4 separate regions of the Homo sapiens genome follow, and regions 2, 3 and 4 are each linked to region 1. Evidence: fine-mapped expression QTL. A gene starts in region 1. Each other region holds a variant in brackets. All regions are shown on one strand. Distances are between the middles of the regions.

Region 1 (5,926 bases):
AGGATTGGCAGCCATGAGTTATGATAATGAAGTGAGGTTAATACATGGAAGTTTGTTACACTACTCTCTCTACATCTGTGTGTGTTTAAAAATTTCCATAATAGTTGGCCGGGCGCGGTGGCTCAAGCCTGTAATCCCAGCACTTTGGGAAGCCGAGGCAGGCGGATCACGAGGTCAGGAGTTAGAGACCAGCCTGGCCAATATGGTGAAACCCCACCTCTACTAAAAATAAAAAAATTAGCCTGGTGTGGTGGCAGGCGCCTGTATTCCCAGCTACTTGGGAGGCTAAGGCAGGAGAATTGCTTGAATCCGGGAAGCAGAGGTTGCAGTGAACCGAGATCATGCCATTGCACTCCAGCCTGGGCGACACGGTGAGACTCAAAAAAAAAAAAAATTCATAATAAAAAGTTTAAAAACAAACACAAATGCTTTCATCCCTTTCTCTCATTTGATCCTATTTATCTACATGAAAACAGAAAAAGCAGCCAATTTTATCTCTACAAATTAAGGATAAGTAATTTTTCAAGTCCATGAAGCTAGTAATAATTATGATAATGTTCAGATTTGACAATGTAGTTTATTATAGTGTTATGATAAAAGCATAGAGCATATTATAGATTTGGTGCAAAAGCAATTGTGGTTTTTGCCACTGAAAGCCAAAAGCCGCAATTACTTTTGCACCAACTTATAATACTGTTAGGTAACATTTAGATGAAAATAAGTTAACATTTACTTGGCACTTACTAGGGATCAGGACCTGTTCTAGGTACTTTACATGTATCAATTTTTAAAGTCTTCACAATCATGTGATAAATAGGTAGGTTCCATTACTCCCATTTTACACATAAGAAAACCAAGGAAAGAGGGGTTAATTAATTAGTCCAATCGCACAGTGACGAACTGGGATTTGAATCAGGCAATCTGGCTCCAGAGTAGACACTTGACACGATACATATCTTCTCCTAGTAACTAAGGATCTCTGATTTGAAACAAAACATTTAGAAACCAAGTATTATGTAGGGCTATTGCCACTACAACATACTACCTAATATAGATTCATAACAAGGGTTAGACCTCATTTTCCTATGGGTAAGTCAACTGATACATCACAGGGCAGGTCTATACAGCCACAGATCCCTGCCGTGTGCAAGGCAAAAAATTTCTACTATAGCCAGGTGTGTGGTTAAGAAAGTACGAGAACATACCTATATTCTCCCTCCCTCATGTTGCTGTCATAAGTTGTTTCTCATAACATCTTTCTAGAAACATTCTCAAGAAGTGCTAATTTATAGGAATTAGTTTAAGGCGCAGGCATTTATGAAATATAAGATATCTCGGCTCACATCCCCATAGCAGAACCTGCAAATGATCTTATTTATGCTAACTCTTTGACCCTGCCCAAGAGCTGATTCCGGAATTTCTATTGTAGTTTCGTTTTTACCTTTCATGAAGATTGTGTACAGGACATAGAAGCGGGGGAAATGACGACCCAAGAAACGATGGTATTTCCCATTAATCGCTTTTGTCTTGGTTACCACATAAGACATCAAGTTCTTCACATCTGCCTTTGGAGAAAGGTGAAGCTTTGAAGACCTACAAGGAAGATCAAAGAGACTATCTGGGAATCAGTCCTAGAAGCTCCCTCACGCCTTGAGTCCCTAATGTAAAGCAGGAGTCTCGGAGATTGTATCCCAAGGCTTGACACTTCTGAAATCCAAGGAAGGTCTTGGGGTCAAGAAGAGATAGGCAATCAGACTGTGAAACACAAATCAGGCAAAGGCCAGGCAGGAAAGTAACTCAGGGTATGCCTCTGGAGAGAGCGCAATGCCTGTGGGACAATTTGAACTGCAGGCTAAGTCAGAAAGAGGTGGAATCGAGATAGCAGCGGTAAAACCTGAGCCGAAAAAGTGAGGCTGAAAGATGAGCTCAGGACACGCGGGGAAACCAGACAATATGGGGCACTGAGAGTACAGAGGGTCAGGAAGCCGGGTCACTAGTGGGGATCGGAGTTTGAATCCTGAACAGAAGAATAAAAATTCCAGGGCCAAGGCGTGGAACTCTGAGAATTAAGAGACAGAATGCAAGCAAGGTTGAGACACTGAAAGAGCCTGGACGTCAAAAATGCTTTTCTCGCTACAGGTCCCTCACCGAGGGGCCCCCCAAGCCAGGCCAGAGCGACCAAGTTGCAGCCTCCGGGTGACAAAATGTCCAGGGGTGACTGCCGAGCCCCACACAGCCGACCGAGCCCAGCACACCCTGGAGAGCGCCATCTTCACAGCGAGAGAAGCGGGAGAGAAGAGGTTGTCTTTGGGTCAAAGTTAACCGTACGTCGCGTTCGTTCGAAGACGCATGCGTCTTTTCTGAGCGCTGATTGGTAGCCATAGCCTGCTTGGCTCCAGCACAAGCCAGGAGAGGGAAGGACTCAAAGACTAAGTGCGGAAGGAGGGCCAGGATTGGACACAGCAGTACTTCCAGGTTTAAAGGCGCCGGAAACAGGGTGTCCCAGAGGGAGCGAGTTCTTATGCCACTGGTGTGGGTTTGCGACGCGGAGGGCACCCTGTCCTTGAGGCGCCCAGTGACCCTCCGCGATTCCTTAGGGCCTCAGGGCTTCCCAGCGCCGCCCTTGCCCTCTGCCTGGACTCGGGGCGTCGGAGCCTCGACTGTTAGGTAGCAGATGTCAGTTTGCCAGTGCCTGGGGCTAGGAGGACCCGCGGCGCCCTCTAATGGTGCCGGCGTGGATAGGCCGGGAACTGTCCACTTTCCAGTCAGTCTGGCGGCGAAGGTTGGAGGCCTGGGAGCGGCCCCTGTGCGGACTGAGTACACTTTTTCCTCTCTTTGTCGTTTCCAGAACTAAGTTTGTGGGAAAATGGTTTTCGTTAAGCACCTACCGAAGACCAAGCTCTGTCTCAACTTAAATGTTACTATTCTGAGAGGATTTCTGTGACCACCCTATCTGAAGCAGTGCCGGCGAAAAGGACACACTTCACACTTATTCTCATGTTACTCTGTTTTGTTTTGTTTTGTTGTTTTGTTTTTGTGACAGTTTTGCTCTGTCGCCCCGGCTGGAGTGCAGTGGCGCGATCTTGGCTCACTGCAGCCTCCGCCTCCCGGGTTCAAGCGATTCTCCTGCCTCAGCCTCCCGAGTATCTGGGATTACAGGCGTCCGCCACCACGCCCGGCTAATTTTTGTATTTTTAGTAGAGACGGGATCTCACTATGTTGGTCAGGCTGGTCTTCAACTCCTGGCCTCAAGTGATCCGCCAGCCTTGGCCTCCCAAAGTGCTGGGATTACAGGCGTGAGCCACTGCACCCGGCCTTGTATTTTCTTTGTAGCATCTGTCACTTACAGTGTTTATGTATTTGTGTCCTTGTTTGACAGCTCCCTGAACTAGAATGAGGGTAAGCATCTTCTCTGCCTTGTTCATTGCTGCACCTCCAACACTAGGTGCCTTACTTAGCACATAGTAGGTGTTCAGTAAACATGTTTGAATAGATTCATACTTGAAACTAAGAAGGATTCCCAGAAGTGGTACTTAACTGCCTCCAAGAATTAACAGTCCTCTTGGATATATATGAATATTTATTCTTCATGGAAGGTGGTAGAGCATCCCATGTGGGTTCCCTGGATATAGGTTCAATCTTGGCATTGACGTTTGTTTTAGTGAATGTTACCTTGGATATGTCACTTTAGCTCTGAGTTTATTTCCCTTATAATAGTACCTACTTTATAAGAAATCTTTGAGGATCCAAAGAGAATACAGCTGTGAAAGCTCCCACATCTGTATAATGCTTTATGGGTCACAGAGCTTTATATTAGCACAGGTTATTAATGACTGTACCACTCGTGCAGTCAGAGGAAAAGTTTTAAAAGATGGCCCTGGATCTTCACAAGTGTTGGGTAGATGGGGTGGACGGGATAGAAAGTTGACTAAGACGGCTGGGCGCCGTGGCTCATGCCTGTAATCCCAGCACTTTGGGAGGCCGAAGCGGGCTGATTACCCGAGGTCAGGAGTTCGAGACCAGCCTGGACAACATGGTGAAACCTCATCTCTACTAAGAATACAAAAATTAGCCGGATGTGGTGGTGGGCGCCTGTAATCCCAGCTACTCGGGAGGCTGAGGCAGGAGAATCGCTTTAACCCAGGAGGCGGAGGTTGAGGTGAGCCAAGATCGCACCACTGCACTCCAGCCTGGGCAACAGAGTGAGACTGTCTCAAAAAAAAAAAAAAAAAAAAAAAAGTTGACTAAGACATGGTCTTCATATTCAGGTAGTTTTTTTTTTTGTTTTTTTTTTTTTTGGAGACAGAGTCTCACTCTGTCACCCAGGCTGGAGTGCAGTGGCGCAATTTCAGCTCACTGCAACCTTCATCTCCCGGATTCAAGTGATTCTCCTGCCTCAGCCTCCCAAGTAGCTGGGTTTACAGGCGCCCGCCACCATGCCCAGACAACTTTTGTATTCTTTTTTTTTTTTTTTGACACGGAGTCTCGCTCTGTTGCCCAGGCTGGAGTGCAGTGGCGCAATCTCGGCTCACTGCAACTTCCGCCTCCCGGATTCACACCATTCTCCTGCATCAGCCTCCCGAGTAGCTGGGACTGCAGGTGCCCACCACCACACCTGGCTAATTTTTTGTATTTTCAGTAGAAACGGGGTTTCACCATGTTAGCCAGGATGGTCTTGATCTCCTGACCTCGTGATCCTCCCACCTCGGCCTCCCAAAGTGCTGGGATTAGAGGTGTGAGCCATCACACCCAGTCCAATTTTTGTATTCTTAGTAGAGACGCGGTTTCACCATGTTGGCCAGGCTAGTCTCGAACTCCTGAACTCAGGTGATCTGCCCACCTCAGCTTCGCAAAGTGCTGGGATTACAGGCGTGAGCCAACGTGCCCAGCCATCTTCAGGTAGCTTCTGAGTCATGTCAACTACTCAAGAATGTTCAGCTCTAAAATTCTGGAACTCTCTTGGAAAGGAGACAAAATCAGAATTTTGTGGAGAAAATAGGAAGGAACTGTGTCTGAAAGGATGGAGTAGAGGGGAAGGCATTTCATGCAATGAAAGAATGTGGCAGGAACACAGGTCATTCCTCAGACTTTTCTTTCTTTCTCTTCCTTCCTTTCCTTCCTTTTCTTTCTTTCCTTCCTCTCTTTCTTTCTCTTTCTCTCTTTCTTTCTTTCATAGGGTCTCGCTGTGTCGCCCAGGCTAGAGTGCAGTGGCCCCATCATGGCTCACTGCAGCCTTGATCTCCTGGGCTCAAGTGGTCCTCTCACCTCAGCCTCCCAAGTAGCTGGGATTACAGGCGCATGCCGCCACGCCCAGCTAATTTTTGTGTTTTTAGTAGAGATAGAGATTTGCCACGTTAGCCAGGCTGATCTTGAACTCCTAGACTCAAGCAATTCCCCTGCCTTGATCTCCCAAAGTGCTGGGATTACAGACTTGAGCCACTGCACCCAGCCCTTTCCTGAGATATTTATTTAGTGTTTAGGCCTCTTCCCCCTTTCCCCCGCTACACACACACACACACACACACACACACACACACACGCGCGTGCACACGCACACACACACACACACACACATGCATCTTGTTGGTTCTATCTTCTAGCTGTTCTTCAATCAGCCAGCTTCCTTCTATCTTCTCTGCCACCACCCTAGGCTAAGCTGCAAGCCTCTGGTCCCCACTTCTACAGCAGCCTCTTTACTGGTTTCCCTGCCATATGTTTTGTCCTCCCTCCAACCAGTTCTCCATGTTGTATGTAACCAGAGAGAGCTTTTAAAATTGCAAATCTAAGCTTGTCATTTCTCTTTATAAAACCTTTCAGGTTTCCGACTGGGCGCGGTGGCTCACGCCTGTAATCCCAGCACTTTGGGAGGCCGAGGCGGGCGAATCACGAGGTCAGGAGATCAAGACCATCCTGGCCAACATGGTGA
Region 2 (5,926 bases), 43 kb before region 1:
CCTGGCCAACATGGTGAAACCCTGTCTCTACTAAAAATACAAAATTAGCTGGGCGTGGTGGCACACACCTGTAATCCCAGCTACTTGGGAGTCTAAGACATGAGAATTGCTTAAACCTGGGAGGTGGGGTTGCAATGAGTTGAGATCAGGCTGCTGCACTCCAGGCTGGGTGACAGAGCAAGACTGTCTCAAAAAAATTTTTTTTAATAAAATAAAATATAGAAATGAGGTCTCACTGTGTTGCCTGCCAGGTTGGTCTTGAACTCCTGGGCTCAAGTGATCCCCCGTCTCATCTTCCAAAGTGCTGGGAGTACAGGTGTGAGCCACCGTGCCTGGCCAAGACTAGGTGACTTTTTTGTTTTGAGACGGAGTCTCACTCTGTTGCCCAGGCTGGAGTTAAATGGCCTGATCTCAGCTCACTTGCAACCTCTGCCTCCCGGGTTCAAGCAATTCTCCTGCCTCAGCCTCCTGAGTAGCTGGGACTACAGGCACGGACCACCATGCCATGCTAATTTTTCTATTTTTAGTAGAGATGGGGTTTTACTATGTTGGCCAGGCTGGTCTTGAACTCCTGACCTCATGATCCACCCACCTCGGCCTCCCAAAGTGCTGGGATTACAGGTGTGAGCCACCGCACCTGGCCCAAGGCTAGGTGACTTTTAAGGTTTCTTCCAAATCTTTGCATTTGTGACTCTTACTGCAAATGATGCATAAAATTAAATATATAGATGAGGCACAGTGGCTCATGCCTGTAAGCCCAGCACTTTAGGAGGCCAAAATGGGAGGATCACTTTAAGCCAGGTCAGGAGTTCAAGACCAGCCTGGGCAACAAAGTGAGACCCGCCCCCCCATCTCTACAAAAAGTTAAAAAAATTAGCCAGGTATGGCAGTGATTACTTGAGCCTAGGGTTGGAGGCTGCAGTGAGCTGTGATCATGCCACTGCACTGTAGCTTAAGTGACGAAGTAAGACCCCCATCTCAAAGAAAACAAAACAAGAATTATATCTCCCTCTGTCACCCAGGCTGGAGTGCAGTGCCAGTTATAGCTCACTGCAGCCTCAAACTCCCAGGCTCAAGTGATCCTCCTGCCTCAGCCTCCCAAGTAGCTAGGACTACAGGCACACACCACGAAGCCCTGCTAATGTTTTTTTGTAGAGACAGGATCTTACCATGTTGCCAACCTAGTCTTGAACTCCTGGCCTCAAGCAGTCCTCCTGCCTTGGCCTCCCAAAGTGTTGAGATTACAGGCATGAGCCACCACGCCTGGCCTTTATTAATATATTGACTATAAATTACACTTAACTATTTTTACCTGAAGTCAGGGTTTTTTAGAGTAGTCTTCGAATTTATGGAAATGAACTTATACAACTTTGAAATTATAGATCCTTAAATTTACCAGAAAATCTCTTAGGCTTTCTTTAGCTACAAAAAATTTTTATTGTGCCAGTGATGTATAATTGGTAAGAATTGGCATAGTGCTAGAACACTGTAATTATTCAGTTTGCTTTAAAACATTGCATATGTTCACTAATAATCCTTTCAATTAAGTGAAAATTTTATACTAGCTTTTTCATTATGAAAGTAATACACAGAATGATAAATTCAAACAATAAAGAATGGTATCATATAACTTTCCCCCTTACCTCTTAGTCCCACTCTGTAGAGGTAATCATTGCAAAGAATTTCCCCCATCACACATGCACACACATACACACACACACACACACACACACACACACACAGATGGGCTCATGTTATACTAATGACCTGCAATTTGATTTTTGTATTTAGCATATCTTGAATATCTTACTATACTAGAATTTTTAGTTCTACATCATTCTTTTTAAAAACTGGTTATTCTGTATGGATGCCATTTAGGTCACATATATTTGAACATGCATCTTTTTTTGTGTGTGCGTGTCACCCAGGCTGGAGCGCAGTGGCACCATCTCAGCTCACTGCAGCCTCTGCCTCCCAGGCTCAAGCGATCCTCCTACCTCAGCCTCCCAAGTACCTGGGGCTACAGGTGTGTGCCACCACACTTGGCTAATTTTGTATTTTTTTGTAGAGACAGGGTCTCCCTATATTGCCCATACTGGTCTTGACCTCCTGGGCTCAAGCATCCTCCTGCCTCAGCCTCCCAAAATGCTGGGATTACAAGTGTGAGCCACCCACCATACCGGCCTAGGCCATTTAGAGAAGAGGCGTAGCATCCTATTTGACTTACCATTGCCTGTACTCCTTTGAAGTATAATAGGTTCCATGTAGAAAAATCTGCTGTATAAAGACTTGATAATTAAAAGGGAGTTATTGCGAAATATTAATAAAAGGGGAGGGAAGTTGTTGCAGGACTCTAAGGATTGAGTAGTCAGTACGTGAAATGTGGCTGTTGAGTAATGAGATTGACTGTTCAATGTTATGGCCCAATGAGAATGTTTGCCCACGTAAATGATTTATTTAAGAAGTCATATAAATGGAGGAAACATGGCTGGGCGTGGTGGCTCACCCCTGTAATCCTAGCGCTTTGGGAGGCTGAGGCGGACAGATCACCTGAGGTCAGGAGTTTGAGATCAGCCTGGCCAACATGGTGAAACTCCGTCTCTGCTAAAAATACAAAAAAAAAAAAAAA[AT/T]TAGCCGGGCGTGGTAGTGGGTGCCTGGAATCCCAGCTACTCAGGAGGCTGAGGCACAAGAATTGCTTGAACCCAGGAGGTGGAGGTTGCAGTGAGCGGAGGTTGTGCCACTGCACTCCAGCCTGTATGAGAGAGAGAAGAGAGAAAAGAGAGAGAGAAAAAGAAACTGACTCTATCTAAAAAAAGAAATTTTAAAAAGACAACCCAAGACGTGACAAAAAAGTAAGGTCCACATGAAGGGGCTGAAGTTCTGATTCCTGGAAGTCCAGGTACTGGGTATGTTGTGCGGGCAGAGTATGATCTCTGAGCTGGAGGTTCCGGGGGAAGCTTGGCAAGTAAAGAAGGTGTGAGATAATGGCACCAACCATTTCTAATGTATGCATAATGGAGGAGTGTTCTCAAAACCCTGTGTATCCCCACATATTCTGAGAAAGTGTTTTGTATAGGGTTACCGCAGAGATTTGAACTGTCTTGCAAATCACCATGAAGGGCTGAGCAGAGCTTCGGTATTCAGTCTTGAAAGCAATTTAGAGTCCAAATATTTGAAGTCAGGATTGAGCTTCTCCCTCTTGTAGCTTTTTTCTCTGGCCAAACCTAACAATTCCAGATTTGGGGGGACAGGAGAACTGAAATTGAAGAACCATTTTATCATTTTACTGAATTATTGGTCTGCTTCCTTGGTCACGGATGGTTCCTCTACAGGAATTTGATCTGTTATGGCCGCCATGGGTCTTATGAGAACTCCAGTCTCAGTAGGAATGGCACAATTGTCCCACCTAGCTGCCCCATTTATATATATATATATATATTTCTTTTTTTTTCTTTTTTTCCTTTTTTTTTTTTTTGAGACAGAGTCTCTGTCACCCAGGCTGGAGTGCAGTGGCGCGACCTCAGCTCACTGCAACCTCTGCCTCCTGGGTTCAAGCGATCCTCCTGCCTGAGCCTCCTCAGTAGCTGGGATTACAGGTATGTGCCACCACGCCCAGCTAATTTTTATATTTTTAGTAGAGACGGGGTTTCACCGGGTTGGACAAGCTGGTCTCAAACTTCTGACCTCAAGTGATCCACCAGCCTTGACCTCCCAAAGTGTTCGGATTACAGGCATGAGCCACTGCGCCCAGCCTATTTCTTTCTTAGCTTCTTTTTTTGTTTTTAAGAGACAGGGTCCTGCTCTGTTGCCCAGGCTGTGGTGTGATCATAGCACACTGTAGCCTTGAACTCCTAGGCTCAAGTGATCCTCTCGCCTGTCTCCTGAGTAGGTAGGACTACAGGCATGTGCCACCACACCCAACAAATTTGTTTTGTTTTGTTTGAGGCAGGATCTCACTTTGCTGCCTAGGCTGGAGGGCAGTGGCACCATCATAGCTCACTGCAGCCTTGACCTCCTGGGCTCAAGCGATTCTCCCACCTCAGCCATCCAAAGTGCTGGGATTACAGGTATGTGCCACTGTGCCCAGCTCTAATTTTTATTTTTCGTAGAGACAGGATCTTGCCATGTGGTCCTTGCTGATCTGAACTCCTGGCTTCAAGCGAGCCTCCCACCTTAGCCTTCCAAAGTGCTGGGATTATAGGCGTGAGCCACCACACCCAGCCTATATATTATGTCATTAGGAGTAATCCTACATCATTCTGCTTCTCCTGCAAATGCTCTACTTTCTTAGTTGTGAGTTAAGGCTTTCCCTGCTAGAATGCTTGCTTTTAGTTTGTGATTAATTTTTGTTTCATTATACCAACTCCAAAACTTAAATGAGGAAGAATATCCTACCACTGCAAAATGGAGTGAGTTGGGAAAGATGCCCTTTGTGACATGGGAGTAATGCCACCAGCACTGTTTTTTCTGCATACTTTATTTCTCCTTCCTGGTTCTTTTAGTGACCTTGTATTTTATCTTCAACCTTGAATTTTCATCTATTTCCACTTCTTCCTTCTTCTTTTCACGTCTTTGTTCACACATTCTCTACAGCATTTCCCCTGTAGTGTTCCTTGTGAACATAGGCCTAAGCTAAAATCTATCTTGCTTGAAAATTTATTTATTTATTTATTTTTCTTGAGGTGGGGTCTTGCTTTGTCACTCAGACTGGAGTGCAGTGGCACTATCTCGGCTCACTGCAAGCTCTGCCTCCCGAGTTCAAGTGATTCTCCTGCCTCAGACTCCCAAGTAGCTGAGATTACAGGCGCCTGCCACCATGCCCGGCTGATTTTTGTATTTTTAGTAGAGACAGGGTTTCACCATATTGGCCAGGCTGGTCTCGAACTCTTGACCTTGTGATCCACCCACCTGCGCCTCCCAAAGTGCTGGGATTACAGGCATGAACCACCGCGCCTGGCCAAAAATTTCAAGTAAGTCTAGCATTTGCATTTTCAAATTCAGACACTGAAAAGTTTATATGAATTAAAGTTTTCAATTGGATTAATATCAATTATAAGGGAACTTGCTATTTAAACTAATATTATTGTATTATTTGTTGTCTTATTGTACTATTTTTTACTGATATGGTATTTTGGGACATGAGTTATAACTGGTTTACCTATTATGCGAATCTCTGTTTTCATGTATTAGATATGTTTAAGATGAGGTGCACATTTTAATTAATGTAGATTCTTGTTTTCTTTTCCTTTTTTTGTGTGGTGGGAGGACAGAGTTTCACTTTTGTCGCCCAGGCTGGAGTGCAATGGCGCATATGACTTCTTTGGTGTTTGTGCTTTCAGTTTGCTGTGGCACTCTTTTTCTCAGATTTACACATACTGTTCTCTTTTTGTTAGTGTGGAATTAGTCACAAAGAGGTGCCTGTCTCTCTAGATCTGGAATATAATATAATTAAATGTCAATTAGTGAAGTAGCATAACAACTTTAGGGCTAAGTCTACAGATACCTTTTCAGAAAAACAAACACAATGCCTTAGATTTTTATTTTAACTCTTTTTCTCTAAGAATTTCAACATATTATATCCTCTGTCCTATTTATTTTCACCTCTCTGGGGAATGTGTTCTCGTTTATCTTTTGGTGGTAAGAGGTAGTTGATACAGTATATATTTTGGTGTCAGATAGGCCTGCATTCAAATCCCAGATCCTTCTCTTCCTGGATATGACTTTGGACAGAGTAATCTTTCAAGCCTCAATTTTATCATCTTAACCCTATGAATTAAGTATTAAAAAGGAGGTAATACTTAATTCATAGAGTTATTTGAGAGTTTTAAAGGGATTATGAGTGTAAAACAGTTTATACTGAATACTATACACCTGTTCATTAGCTCAATAATCTAAGGATACTACTGACTATAAGATCACCTTCACA
Region 3 (5,926 bases), 860 kb before region 1:
TGACCAGCACATTGCGGCTCTTGAAGTCGCGGTGGGCAATGGCTGGTTTGCCCTGTGTACCGAAGATCTCCACGTGCAGGTGCGCCAGGCCGCATGCCGCGGACACAGCTAGCCTCAGAGCCAGATGGGGCTCCAGCGTCTGTCTCTGCAGAAAGTCGTAGAGGGAGCCGTGCTCGTGGTAGTGCGTGATGAGCCACAGCTGCGTGCTCGAGTTGCGGGAGGTCATGTCTGAGGCGATGAAGCCTGTGTGCAGAAAGGTTGGGTGACTCAGCCAAGGGGCTGGGGCTAAGGGAGGCTGGAGTCGTCAGGGTCAGGGTGGGGTTGGGGGAGAGGGAATGGACTGGGTCACTGCTAAGCTAGGTCTGGGGGTGGGGGTTGATGTGGCTTAGGTCAGAGACAGAGCTGGAGTCAGAGGTTGGGTCTGGGCCTGGCTTAGTGGCTTGCACCTGTAATCCCAACACTTTGGGAGGCCAAGGCAAGAGCACTGCTTGAGCCTAGGAATTTGAGACCAGTCTGGGAAACATAGGGAGACCTCGTCTCTACAAAAAATAAAAAAGTTAGCTGGGCATGGTGGCACATGCCTGTGGTCCCAGCTACTCAAGAGGCTGAAGTGGGAGGATCACTTGAGCTCAAGAGATTGAGGCTCCAGTGAGATTGCACCACTGCATCCCAGCCTGGGTGACAGAGCGAGGCCCTGTCTCAAAAATTAAATTAAATTAAATTAAATTAAATTAAATTAAATTAAATTAAAAAAAGAGGTTGATGCTGCAGGTGGGCTGAGAGTCCTTCAGGGTTCTGTTAATGTCTGGAGGTCTGCAAACTTGAGCCCTGAGTGCAGGGGGGCAAAGCCCCAGGCCTGGCACAGCTGGCCTCTCCCCTTGCCTAGGATGTTGTCGTGTCTGAGCAACACTGTGTTATAGATCTCAGTCTCCCGGAACCAGGACTGTTCATCCCTCGAGGAGAAGATCTTGACGGCCACACTCTCACCGTGCCACAAGCCCCGCCACACTTCGCCATAGCGGCCTTTTCCTGATGGCCAGAGGGGAAGGTGAGGGTTACACACTGGGCACACAGAGCCCTGGAAGAGCCCCCCATCTTGATGCTGCGCTGCCTCCCTCGCCCACCCCACCCACAGAACCCCAGACCCTTAGGTTTAACTTAATCCAGACCCAAACCCAGTGGCAGGCCACCCCCAGCTGCCTCTCGTTCCACCCCGGTCCTGCAGAAAGAAGAACCTAGCCCTGGCCCGTCTCCAGCCCACTCCCTGCCCAGCAGAATTCCAATTCTGACCCAGGCCTGGCACCGCCTGTGATTCCAGTAGCCAAAAACTCCCTCACCCCTCCAGGCTCATGAGAGCCCTTGGTCCTCATCCACCGGGCTCACCCACTGCTCACCCACACACTCCACCAAGGCAACCTGCCGTGCCACTGTCCTCTGCACCAGGAAGGGGAGCCCTGAGCCACTCCCTGTGGTGCAGTCACTGTCCAGGAGGTCCTGGGGGTACGGAGAGGCCACTGAGAGGCTGCCACAACCAGCCACAGCCCCCTTCTCTATCCTCGACCTGGGACCTGCTGGGTCACTGCAAGCTCCTCACTCGCCCAGCTCCCCACCGGCTCTAATCTCTGGGTGACCCCTCTGATTCTGCAGTTCCTATCTGCCCCTCCTACACCCTGTGTCCCAGGTCCCCAGGCCCATACCCCCAACATGCTGTCGCCCTGCTCAGATGCTTTCAGGATGAGACTGGACTCTCCCAGCTCGCTGTGCAGGCCACGCTGCTTCTCCTGCCTCCGTCGGACATGCCACAGGCCCAGGACACCCAGGGCCACCAGGGCCAGCAAGGCCAGCACGGGGCCCAGGATCAGGGCCAGCTGGCCATCTGTTCCCGGCTGCTCCGAAGGAGGTTGGGTGGCTGAGGGAGGGGGACACTGAGGCTCAGCTTCCACTAGGTCAGCTCCCCCCACCTCGGGCCAGACCACTCTGCCAGTTAGATCCCAGAGTCCTGCCCACCCGCTCCCCCGCCCCCAGCCCCTTTATTGGCCAGAGCATGAGAGGAAAGGAGGGAAGGGAGGGCAGGGGCCAAGAAGATGGGGAGGGAGTGCTAGGGCAGCTGGACGTACCCTCCAGCACCAGGGACACGTTGTGGTTGCAGAGGTGGCTGTCGCAGCAGTAGTGGTTGACGAACTCGGTGGGGCGCCCCCTGCAGAGCTCCCTGTGCAAGTTCCCGCAGCCCCGATGTTCCTGGGGGTGCCTCCCCTCCTCCCGCACCAGCACTACTGTGCACCAGGCCCCCCGGCAGGTAGGCCCCTTGCAATGTGGGCTCTCACACGTGCAGGTCACCAGCGGGCCCCGAGACGGCTTCACAGGGTCTCCTGGAAGACACACCGGAAGCTCAGCCACTGTGGTCCCAGCTCCCCCAGGCTGAGCCCGACACCCATTTCTGTCCTACTGTCCCTCTCGTCTGACCCCTCAGACAAACACCTTGAAGCTTTGGTCTCTTACTTTCATCCTCAGTCATCCTTCCCTCAGAACCCTCCCCTCAGAGCAGCTGACACTCTGAAAAGCAG[G/C]CTTTTGTCCCCTCCTGGCTCCTAGGTCCTCCCCTCCCAGTTCTAGGCTGGGCTGGGCCCCCAGCCCCAGCCCTGAGTGCTCTCCCAGGCTTGGCCTGCCAACACCTGCTCTCCCTCCACCCCACATATAGGCTTCCACCCTAGTCTGACAGAGCTCCAGCCTGCAGGTCTGGATCAAGAGGAGAGCAAAGGAGGGCTGGGGTAGCTGGGGACTGAGTCTAATGGAGCCTCACTGTCCTCCACTCTCCAGTCAAGCTCCTACATTCTCCCCAGCTTCTCAAGTTCAGCCCCAGGCAGAGCTGATCTGGGCCCAGATAGCCCTTTCTGTATCCAGGTTCCTGTTTCCTAACTGCTCCCCCAGTACTCACCCTGGGTCACCAAGGCCATCAGCAGCATCAGAAGGCCTTTCCTGGGGGAGCCCAAGGTCATGGTCCCTGCAGAGAGGAGCAAGAGAGGTGGAGTAAGAGCCATGAAGTGTGACAGCCGCTGGCCGTGGCTCCCTCCTGCCCAGAGGAAATCACAGAGTTTTTTTTGGAGGGGAGGCAGGGAGGCCGCCTCCCTACTCCCTGCCGCCTGGCTTTGGGGCGGGGCCTGCAGGGGAAGTCCTGGTTCACTTCCCCATGGAAACCATCCTGTTAGAGGTGAAGGGTGGAGAGCAATGTTTAAGTGACTGAGAGCTTGGGGAAACCCTAGCTCTGCACTCCTGCTGCTGAGCTCAGACTGCAGGCAGGTTGGGAGAGCCGCAGGGAGCACCCAATTGGGGTAGAAGGAGCATCTCTCCAGCAGCTCCCCTTCTGTTCTGTGTCTCTTTCCCACTCCCTCACAGCTTCCACCCCTGCCTACCCTTTCTCAATGCCCCCCCAGCCCTGGCTGCCTCAAACATAAACAGGCTCCTGTCTTCGCTTCCTGCCATTCAGGGTCCTGCCAAGCCAGGAACAGGAATCAAGATTGTTTAGATTGGGGTCTGGATAGAACAGGCAGGAGTCACGCACAGCAGGGAACTGAGGGCATATTTTCAGGGTGGGCTGCAGCAGCCACAAGGTCTGGAGGGGCTTTTTAAATATGCCCTTAGTTCCTTGCTACCCTTAGTTCCTTGTGCCTGGGACACCCACATGACAGAATTCTAGGTGGACATCCTGTGAATCACAAAATCCAGCTCCTTGTTTTACAGAAGAGAGGAGTAAGGCTCATACAGGGAAGAAGACTTGTCCCGGGTCAGACAGGACTCACTGGCACCAGCAGGCGTACATCCCAGGTTTCCAGACTCCTAATCAAGTGCTCTCTTCGCTCTGTCCCTATCCAGTGGTGGCAGCCCATGTCTGAGCCCTCAGGGCTATAACAACCATGCAAAGCTCGGACGGGGCAGGGTCATGCCAGGTGTAGAGAAACCTCTCTGCAAGCTCACCAGAGTATAAGCTGCCCTCTCGGAGCTGTTCCCTGGCCCCCTTCTTTCCCCTTGCCATCTAGGAAAGGGTGGGTGGAGGGCCAGTGATGTGGCAGGGGAAGTGAAACACACTTAGACACTGAATGTTTGACCTTCCATGGCTGACTAGGGTTGAACTTTTCCAGAAGTTTGTTGGAGAGTGTTAGGGGGAGTAATTCTGGTCTATGATAGTCCCCAATCCAGGTCCCACACCAACTAGTGCTTCTGAAGCCACCCAGTCTTCATTTCTCACAGGTTTAGAACCAGAAGATATTGGCTAAAGCTGCAGCAAGAAGGACCCTGGTCAGACAGCAACAGGACTTTCTGAATGGTGGAGCATGTGCAGGTGTGTGTCTGGGGACTGGATCCTCAGGCAGGGCACAAGGCAGGGAGACTGTCCTTTGGCATGACATGGTGAGCCTGACAGGGCTGGGCACATGGCCACAGAGGCTTCAGAAAGCCCATAGTCTAAGAATGGTGCCAAATGAAGACCCAAGATGCTGAGGCTCTGAGGGCAGTATGGCTAGGGGTGGGGTAGGGGGGCTTCATAGGCCTCTCTGGCTGGTGGCAGGCCTGGCCTTCCTGCCTGGGCTTCCTCTGCCCCAGAGGCCCAGGCTGGGGGAGGAAACAGAGCCCTGGGCTGCTGCAGCTGTGTCCCCAGCCTCTGCCTGACCTCCTGCCTCTTGCCCCTCCCGCAGCCAGTGAGGACTCTGGCTAGCACTGTGCGGCAGGACTGACGGTGGGATGGGATGGAGAGAGCACCCTAGAGGAGCTGAATCTGCCCACTGGGGTACTAGCAGGAAGCCATCCTTGGCAGCCTTTGCTAGCCCAGAAAGCTGCAAAGGAGAGGGTTTGAGGTGGAAAGGAAAAAGTGGCTAACAATAAGGCTAAAATCCGGCATTCCTCTAGGATCCTCTGTCCGTACCTCTACTTCTCTGGCCGTGCCCCAGTCCACCCTCCTTCTACTTTATCACGCATCAGAATCACCTGAAGTGCTCACTGAGAAAAGCATATTCACTGGTTTCACCCTCACTCCAGACTCTGATTCAGTCCTGGAATCAGCAAGAAACATGCATTTTTTAAAAGTTCCCCAGGGAGTTCTGATCAGTTTGTGTGGGCACAACGCTAAGTCTGGTTCCTCTGCTTTCATTTTGCTGTACAGGGCCCTGCTGGGTGAGTGGGAGTGGGATGCAGAGGGAGGGGACACTCACTCCCACCCAGGATACTCCCCATCTACTACAGAAGGGACAGCCAAGGGTAAACACCAAAGCTGGGACGTGGTGACACTGTGGAGCGAGGCTGTCTGCATCTGCAGAACCCATCTATGGTCTAATCCTGGGAATGTGATGGAGTAAAATTGGGACTGTCCAATTTTTAACTGGACCCAGTGTGAGATCAAGTACAGGAGGATGCTGAGTCCCGACCAGTCCAAACTCAGAGCTGACTCTGTACGATTTACCCTGAAATCTGACTGTAGCACAGACAGACTCCTGGGGCCTGGCAGGATCCTTTCACTTCTAAGCAAAACTTTGTGAAAGATCTCCTGCTGACAGAAGCATCACTATTGTTGGCCAGAAATTACAGACGTTAAACTAATTTCAAACGTTAGCTAAACACTATGAAATACTTAATAATAACAGTTAACCTTCTCTGAGTACTAATTATGTGCTAAGTACTGAACTTGAATGGTTTATCTGATTTAATCATCACAACAGTCCAACGGGGGAAAGTGAGGCTCAGAGATGTTCAGTTTCTTGTCCATAGTCACTGAGCGTGTCTTAATAAACTTAAATTGCTGATAATAAATCATTCCTTGGTCATTGTTATTCCTCCAGTTGTTTGGGGTTAGATGAGTCCCTCAAAGGAAGAAAAAGACATGGGTCTCGGTGGACGTGTACAAATTGCCCACTACTGTTGTTATTAACGGGTGCCCTACTCA
Region 4 (5,926 bases), 100 kb before region 1:
CGGGAGGCAGAGCTTGCAGTGAGCCGAGATCGCGCCACTGCACTCCAGCCTGGGCGACAGGGAGAGACTCTGTCTCAACAACAATAACAACAAAAAATTAGGTCTTATTAATACTGTCCTAAGGTAACTGTTAATATCACCCTTCCTCACTCACCAAGGTGTACCTGTTTTAGTGATAAATTATATGATCACTTTCTTTAAAATGTTCATCAGATCATGCTACTTTTCTCCTAAAAACTGTCCAGTGGCTTCACATCTCACTGAATAAAAGCCACAGGTCTGTCAAGGATCCATATGGTCTGCTCCTCCAGCCATTGAATATACTCTTCCCCTGGCTTGCTCTGCTGCAGCCGCACCTGGTCTTAGGGCTCCAGTCTCACCTCAGTGTCTTTGCATTTGCAGTTACTCTTCCCGAAACATTCCTGTATGTTCCTTACTTCCTTTAGGTTTCTGCTCACATGTCTTTTTATCAGAGAGGCCTTCTAATGTCCTTCACGTAAAATAGCAAGAGCCTCCTCCCCCTCACCAGCACTCCTTGCTTTCTTTACCCCCTCTGCTTTATTTCTTCCCTAACATCTGATGTGTAATTCATTTGTTGGCTTCTCTCCCCAACTTCATGCTTCATAAAAGAAGGGATTTTCTTTTGTTCTCTACCCTCTGCCTACTGTTAGAATAGTGCCTAATAAGTAGTTTGCGCTGATGTGTTGAATGAATGAATTCACTATCTCCATTTTCTTAAAAAAGGCAAGTACTATAGCAGTTCCTGAGGCAACTATCTCTCTTCATTGAGACCTAAGTCTCTTTATTGAGACTGATTTTTGCCCTTTTGTTGTTGTTGTTTGCTGTGATTTTTCAGTACTTTTTTTCTTCATTTCTCCCCACTTCAATTATCATCTGTCCATCTTCCAAATCTTCTCTCTTTGTCTCAGAGTTGGTCAGTTGTTACTGTTCTTTACTTTCCCTTTCATTCTAAGTCTGTTATGATGGACAGTGTATTTAGATGAGATTCGCCCTGTTTTGCTGCAAACGTTATCCATTACTTTTTAAATTTTAAAATTAAAAAGAATTTTTAATTCATTACTTTTTAAAAAAAATTTTTTTTCTTTTTTTTTCGAGATGGAGGCTCGCTCTGTCGCCCAGGCTGGAGTGCAGTGGCACAATCTCGGCTCACTGCAACCTCCGCCTCCCGAGTTCAAACGATTCTCATGCCTCAGCCTCCCAAGTAGCTGGGATTCCAGGTGCCTGCCACCACGCCCAGCTAATTTTTGTATTTTCAGTAGAGAAGAGGTTTCGCCATGTTGGCCAGGCTGGTCTCAAACTCCTGACCTCAGGTGATCCGCCTGCCTTGGCCTCTCAAAGTGCTGGGATTACAGGCGTGAGCCACTGCACTCAGCCATACTTCACTACTTTTTAAAAGATGGCACTGCTGTAAAAATATAAAGACATGCTGAGAATGATTAAGTGCAAATTCAGGATAATGTTGCCTCTGGGAGTTGGAGGGGATGTAACTGAGGAAAAATATAGGGGGCTTCAACTGTTAATGCTGTATCTTAAGCTGCCTAGAGTGTACACAGTCATTTGTTACACTGTTTTATCTTTTTTATGTCTAAAATACCTTATAACAAATTAAAGGCTAGGTGCGGTGGCTCACCCTGTAATCCCAGCACTTTGGGAAGTTGAGGCAGGTGGATCACCTGAGGCCAGGAGTTCTAGACCAGCCTGGCCAACATGGCGAAACCCCGTCTCTACTAAAAATGCAAAAAATTAGCTGAGCGTGGTGATGCATGCCTGTAGTCCCAGCTACTCAGGAGGATGTGGCACGAGAATCGCTTGAACCTGGGAGGCAGAGATTGCAGTGAGCAAAGATCGTGCCACTGCACTCTGGCCTGGGTGACAGAGCGAGCCTCCATCTCGAAAAAAAAGAAAAAAAATTAAGAAAAAATTTATCTAACACGTAATCTATTTCTTCATTCTTTTAAGTTATGCTGTTACTCCTTTTTACTGTAAGTTCATAAATTTTCTTTGCTTTCCTACACTTTTCTTGTCCTCCTCTTATTATGGAAAACAACCTACAAAGCAGCAGTGCTGCCATTCCTTCCTTCTACTTTTTTTTTTAAGGTTTTTGGGGAACAGGTAGTGTTTGGTTACATTAATAAGTTCTTTAGTGGTGATTTCTGAGATTGTAGTGCACCTATCACCTGAGCAGTGTACAGTGTACCCAATGTATAGTCTTTTACCCCTCACCTCTTCCCATGCTTTCCCCTTGAGTCCCCAAAGTCCATTGTATTATACTTAAACATTTGTACCTCATAGCTTAGCTCCCACTTATGAATGAAAACATACGATGTTTGGTTTTCCATTCCTGAGTTACTTCACTTAGAGTAATGGGCTCTAGTTCCATCCAGCTTGCCGCAAATGCCATTGTTTCGTTCCTTTTATGGCTGAGTAATATTCTATGGTGTATATATACCACATTTTCTTTCTTTCTGTTTTTTTTTTTTTTTTTGAGATGGAGTCTTGCTCTGTTGCTCAGGCTGGAGTGCAGCAGCGCAGTCTTGGCACACTGCAGCCATCACCTCCTGGGTTCAAGAGATTCTCCTGCCTCAGCCTCCTGAGTAGCTGGAATTACAGGTGCCTGACACCACTCCAGGCTAATTTTTGTATTTTTAGTAGAGACAGGGTTTCGCCATATTGGTCAGGCTGGCCTCAAAGTCCTGACCTCAGGTGATCCGCCCACCTCGGCTTTCCAAAGTGCTGGGATTACAGATGTGAGCCACTGCACCTGGCCTATATACCACATTTTCTTTTCTTTTTCTTTTTTTTTTTTTTTTGAGACAGAGTCTCACTCTGTTGCCTAGGCTGGAGTGCAGTGGTGCAATCTCGGCTCACTGCAACCTCTTCCTCCTGGGTTCAAGTGATTCTCCTGCCTCAGCCTCCCAAGTAGCCTGGACTACAGGCGCCCGCCACCACGCCTGGCTGATTTTTGTATTTTTAGTAGAAATGGAGTTTCACCATATTGGCTAGGCTGGTCTTAAACTCCTGACCTTGTGATCCGCCCGCCTCGCCTCCCAAAGTGCTGGGATTACAGGTGTGGGCCACCACGCCCGGCCACCACATTTTCTTTATCCACTTGTTGATGGGCATTTGGGCTGGTTCCATATTTTTGCAATTGCAAATTGTCCTGCTATAAACATGCGTGTGCAAGTATCTTTTTCATATAATGACTTCTTTTCCTCTGGGTAGATACCCAGCAGTGGGATT[G/A]CTGGATCAAATGGTAGATAAACTTTTAGTTTTTTAAGGAATCTCCACACTGTTCTTCCTAGTGGTTGTACTATTTACATTCCCAGCAACAGTATAAAAGTGTTCCCTTTTTACCACATCCATGCCAACATCTATTTTTTTTTAATTTTTTGATTATGGCTATTCTTGCAGAAGTAAGGTGGTATTGCATGGAGGTTTTGATTTTCATTTCCCTGATAGTGATGTTGAGCATTTTTCCATATGCTTGTTGGCTATTTGTATGTCTTCTTTTGAGAATTGTCTATTCATATCCTTAGCCACTTTTTGATGGGATTGTTTGTTTTTTTTCTAGCTGATTTGTTTGAGTTCCTTGTGGATTCTGGATATTAGTCCTTTGTCAGATGTATAGATTGTGATTTTCTCCCACTCTGTGGGTTGTCTCTTTACTCTGCTGATTATTTCTGCTGTGCAGAAGCTTTTTAGTTTAATTAAGTCTCATCTGTTTATCTTTGTTTTTGTTGCATTTACTTTTGGGTTCTTGGTCATGAGGTCTTTGCCTAAGTCAGTGTCTAGAAGGGTTTTTTCCAATGTTATCTTCTAGAATTTTTATGGTTTCAAGTCTTAGATTTAAGTCTTTGCTCTACCTTAAGTTGATTTTTGTATAAGGTGAGAGATGAGGATCCAGTTTCATTCTCCTACATGTGGCTTGCCAGTTATCCCAGCCTTCCCTCTACTTTGTCACCTTCTCTCTTTCCCCCCCCACCTCTTCCTATCCTGGTCTCCCTTTATCTGCCTTGTTCATAGTAGTTTCCATTTGTTGCTGATAGTCGACTCTCACTATGCCTCAAGTAGAACCTAACAGAATAAACTTGGGACTTTGTGTACACAAATTGGTGTTCCAGTTTTCCTTTCACCAATGGTTTAATTTTCTTTCTTTCTTTCTTTCTTTCTTTTTTGAGATGAAGTCTTGCTGAGGCTGGAGTGCAGTGGCGCAATCTCGGCTCACTACAACCTCTGCCTCCTGGGTTCAGGTGATTCTCCTGCCTCAGCCTCCCGAGTAGCTGGGATTACAGGCATGTGTCACCACACCTGGCTAATTTTTGTATTTTTAGTAGAGATGGAGTTTCACTATATTGGCCAGGCTGGTCTCGCACTTCCGACCTCAGGTGATCTGCCTGCTTTGGGCTCCCAAAGTGCTGGGATTACAGGCGTGAGCCACTGTGCCCGGCCTAATGTTTTATATGCACAGCAAATCCTGGTTTATTCCCTCAGTCACTAAGCAGATTTTTACTCTATCATTCAGCAAACACTTGAGTGCCTACTATGTACTTGGTTTTGTACAACTTGATTCTGTAGCTTTGTCTTCACCATATGCTCCCATATGCAGGTGCTGAATCTAAATAAACAGGTTTCTGTCTTTCATTTGCTTACAATTTGATGGAGAAGATAAGACATGTATATAAATAAATGTGATACAGGCTGGAAATAAATATGCTAAAAGCACTTGAAGTGCTATAGGAATTCAGAACACAGAAATACTACTTCTGCCTCCTAAGGTGGTATCTGAAAGAAGGGTAAGATTTGGCCCTGCAAAGGTGGAGGAGAAATATATTCCAGGCAGAGGGATTATAGGAGCAATGGAATTGTTGGATTATGAGCTTGCTGTATCTTCCTACAAGATAATGCTAAATTATTGTTCTAGTATACTTAGAGGTCAGGTGTTTCGGTTCTGCATCCTAGCCATTATTTTAATTGTTCACTGTTGTAATTTTTGTGTGGAATAGTATTTTATTGTGGTTTTAATTTGTATTTTCCTAATTTCTTATGAGGCCAGCACCTTTTCATATGTTTGTGGGCCACTGATGTTTTCTCCTAAGAAGTAAGTATTTGAGTTTTTTGGGGGTATGGGGTGGGGGAGGGAGGTTTGGCCTTTTTCATATTAATTTATAGGAATCTTAAATATATTTTATTAATTTTTTTTTTGAGATAGGATCTCGCCGTGTCACCCAGGCTGGAGTGTAGTGGCACAAGCTTGACTCACTGCAGCCTCAAACTACTGGGCTCAGGCAGTCCTCCTACCTTAGCCTCCCGAGTAGCTGAGACAACAGCTGAGCATGCCACCATGCCTGGCTAATTTTTTATTTTTGTAGAGACGGAGTAATCTACAAAAGTGTTAAGATTACAGGTGTGAGCCATTATGGCCAGCCTCAAAAATATTTTAGATACTTATCTTTTGTCAGTTTTGTATGTAGTCAGTATATTCTGCCAGTTTGTGGCTTGTCATTTCCCTCTCTTTATGTGTCTTTGGTTCTAAGGTTCTTTTTTTGGTGGGGAGGGGGAAGGGACAGGGTCTTGCTCTGTCGACCAGGCTGGAGTGCAGTGGCAATCACAGCTCACTGCAGCCTCGAACTCCTGGGCTCAAGTGATCCTCCTGCCTCTGCCTGTCAAGGAGCTGGGACCACAGGTATGCACCACCATGCCTGGCTAATTTTTTGTATTTTTTGTGGAGACGGGGGTCTCCTTATGTTGCTGAGGCTAGTCTCAAACTCCTGGGCTCAGGCAGTTCTCCCACCTTGACCTACCTCAAAGTGTTGGGATTACAGGCATTAGCCACCATGCCTGGCCTAAAGTTCTTAACTTAGTATAATTTATGAATCTTTTATGGTATATGATTTTTGAGTCTTGT

Alleles and levels. Alleles are on the strand shown, and positions count from the first base shown. SD is a standard deviation of normalised expression in the study named. Not every link is listed here.
For the expression in monocytes after LPS of the gene that starts at base 2,300 in region 1, allele AT in region 2 goes with a lower level than allele T (moderate effect, 0.42 SD a copy in Fairfax 2014).

The links. PIP is the estimated chance that this variant, and not a neighbour inherited with it, causes the effect. A credible set is the group of variants that fine-mapping cannot tell apart.
Region 2: its variant is the best candidate, but not a certain one, in a credible set for the expression of LETMD1 in monocytes after LPS (Fairfax 2014, PIP 0.56).
Region 3: its variant is the best candidate, but not a certain one, in a credible set for the expression of LETMD1 in tibial nerve (GTEx, PIP 0.83).
Region 4: its variant is the best candidate, but not a certain one, in a credible set for the expression of LETMD1 in whole blood (TOPMed, PIP 0.70).

What each region holds. Positions count from the first base shown.
Region 1 is chr12:51,044,701-51,050,626 of GRCh38, reverse strand. LETMD1 (LETM1 domain containing 1) reads right to left here and starts at 2,300. Exons shown (of 9, transcript NM_015416.5): 1 at 2,149-2,300; 2 at 1,442-1,593. The coding sequence starts at 2,270. RefSeq lists enhancers at 1,517-2,055, 2,256-2,305, 2,056-2,594, 2,416-2,685, 2,776-2,855 and 1 more.
Region 2 is chr12:51,087,416-51,093,341 of GRCh38, reverse strand. No RefSeq gene overlaps it. Among named protein-coding and RNA genes, the nearest start is that of CSRNP2, 6.8 kb to the right of the region's middle. The variant AT/T (reference allele first, on the strand shown) is at 2,630.
Region 3 is chr12:51,909,542-51,915,467 of GRCh38, reverse strand. ACVRL1 (activin A receptor like type 1) reads right to left here. Exons shown (of 10, transcript NM_000020.3): 2 at 2,933-2,998; 3 at 2,118-2,369; 4 at 1,698-1,909; 5 at 1,395-1,494; 6 at 883-1,029; 7 at 1-243. The coding sequence starts at 2,993. Among named protein-coding and RNA genes, the nearest start is that of ACVRL1, 5.0 kb to the right of the region's middle. RefSeq lists enhancers at 1-666, 1,312-2,145. The variant G/C (reference allele first, on the strand shown) is at 2,565.
Region 4 is chr12:51,145,605-51,151,530 of GRCh38, reverse strand. The region is part of intron 1 of TFCP2 (transcription factor CP2); the gene reads left to right. Among named protein-coding and RNA genes, the nearest start is that of TFCP2, 25 kb to the left of the region's middle. The variant G/A (reference allele first, on the strand shown) is at 3,262.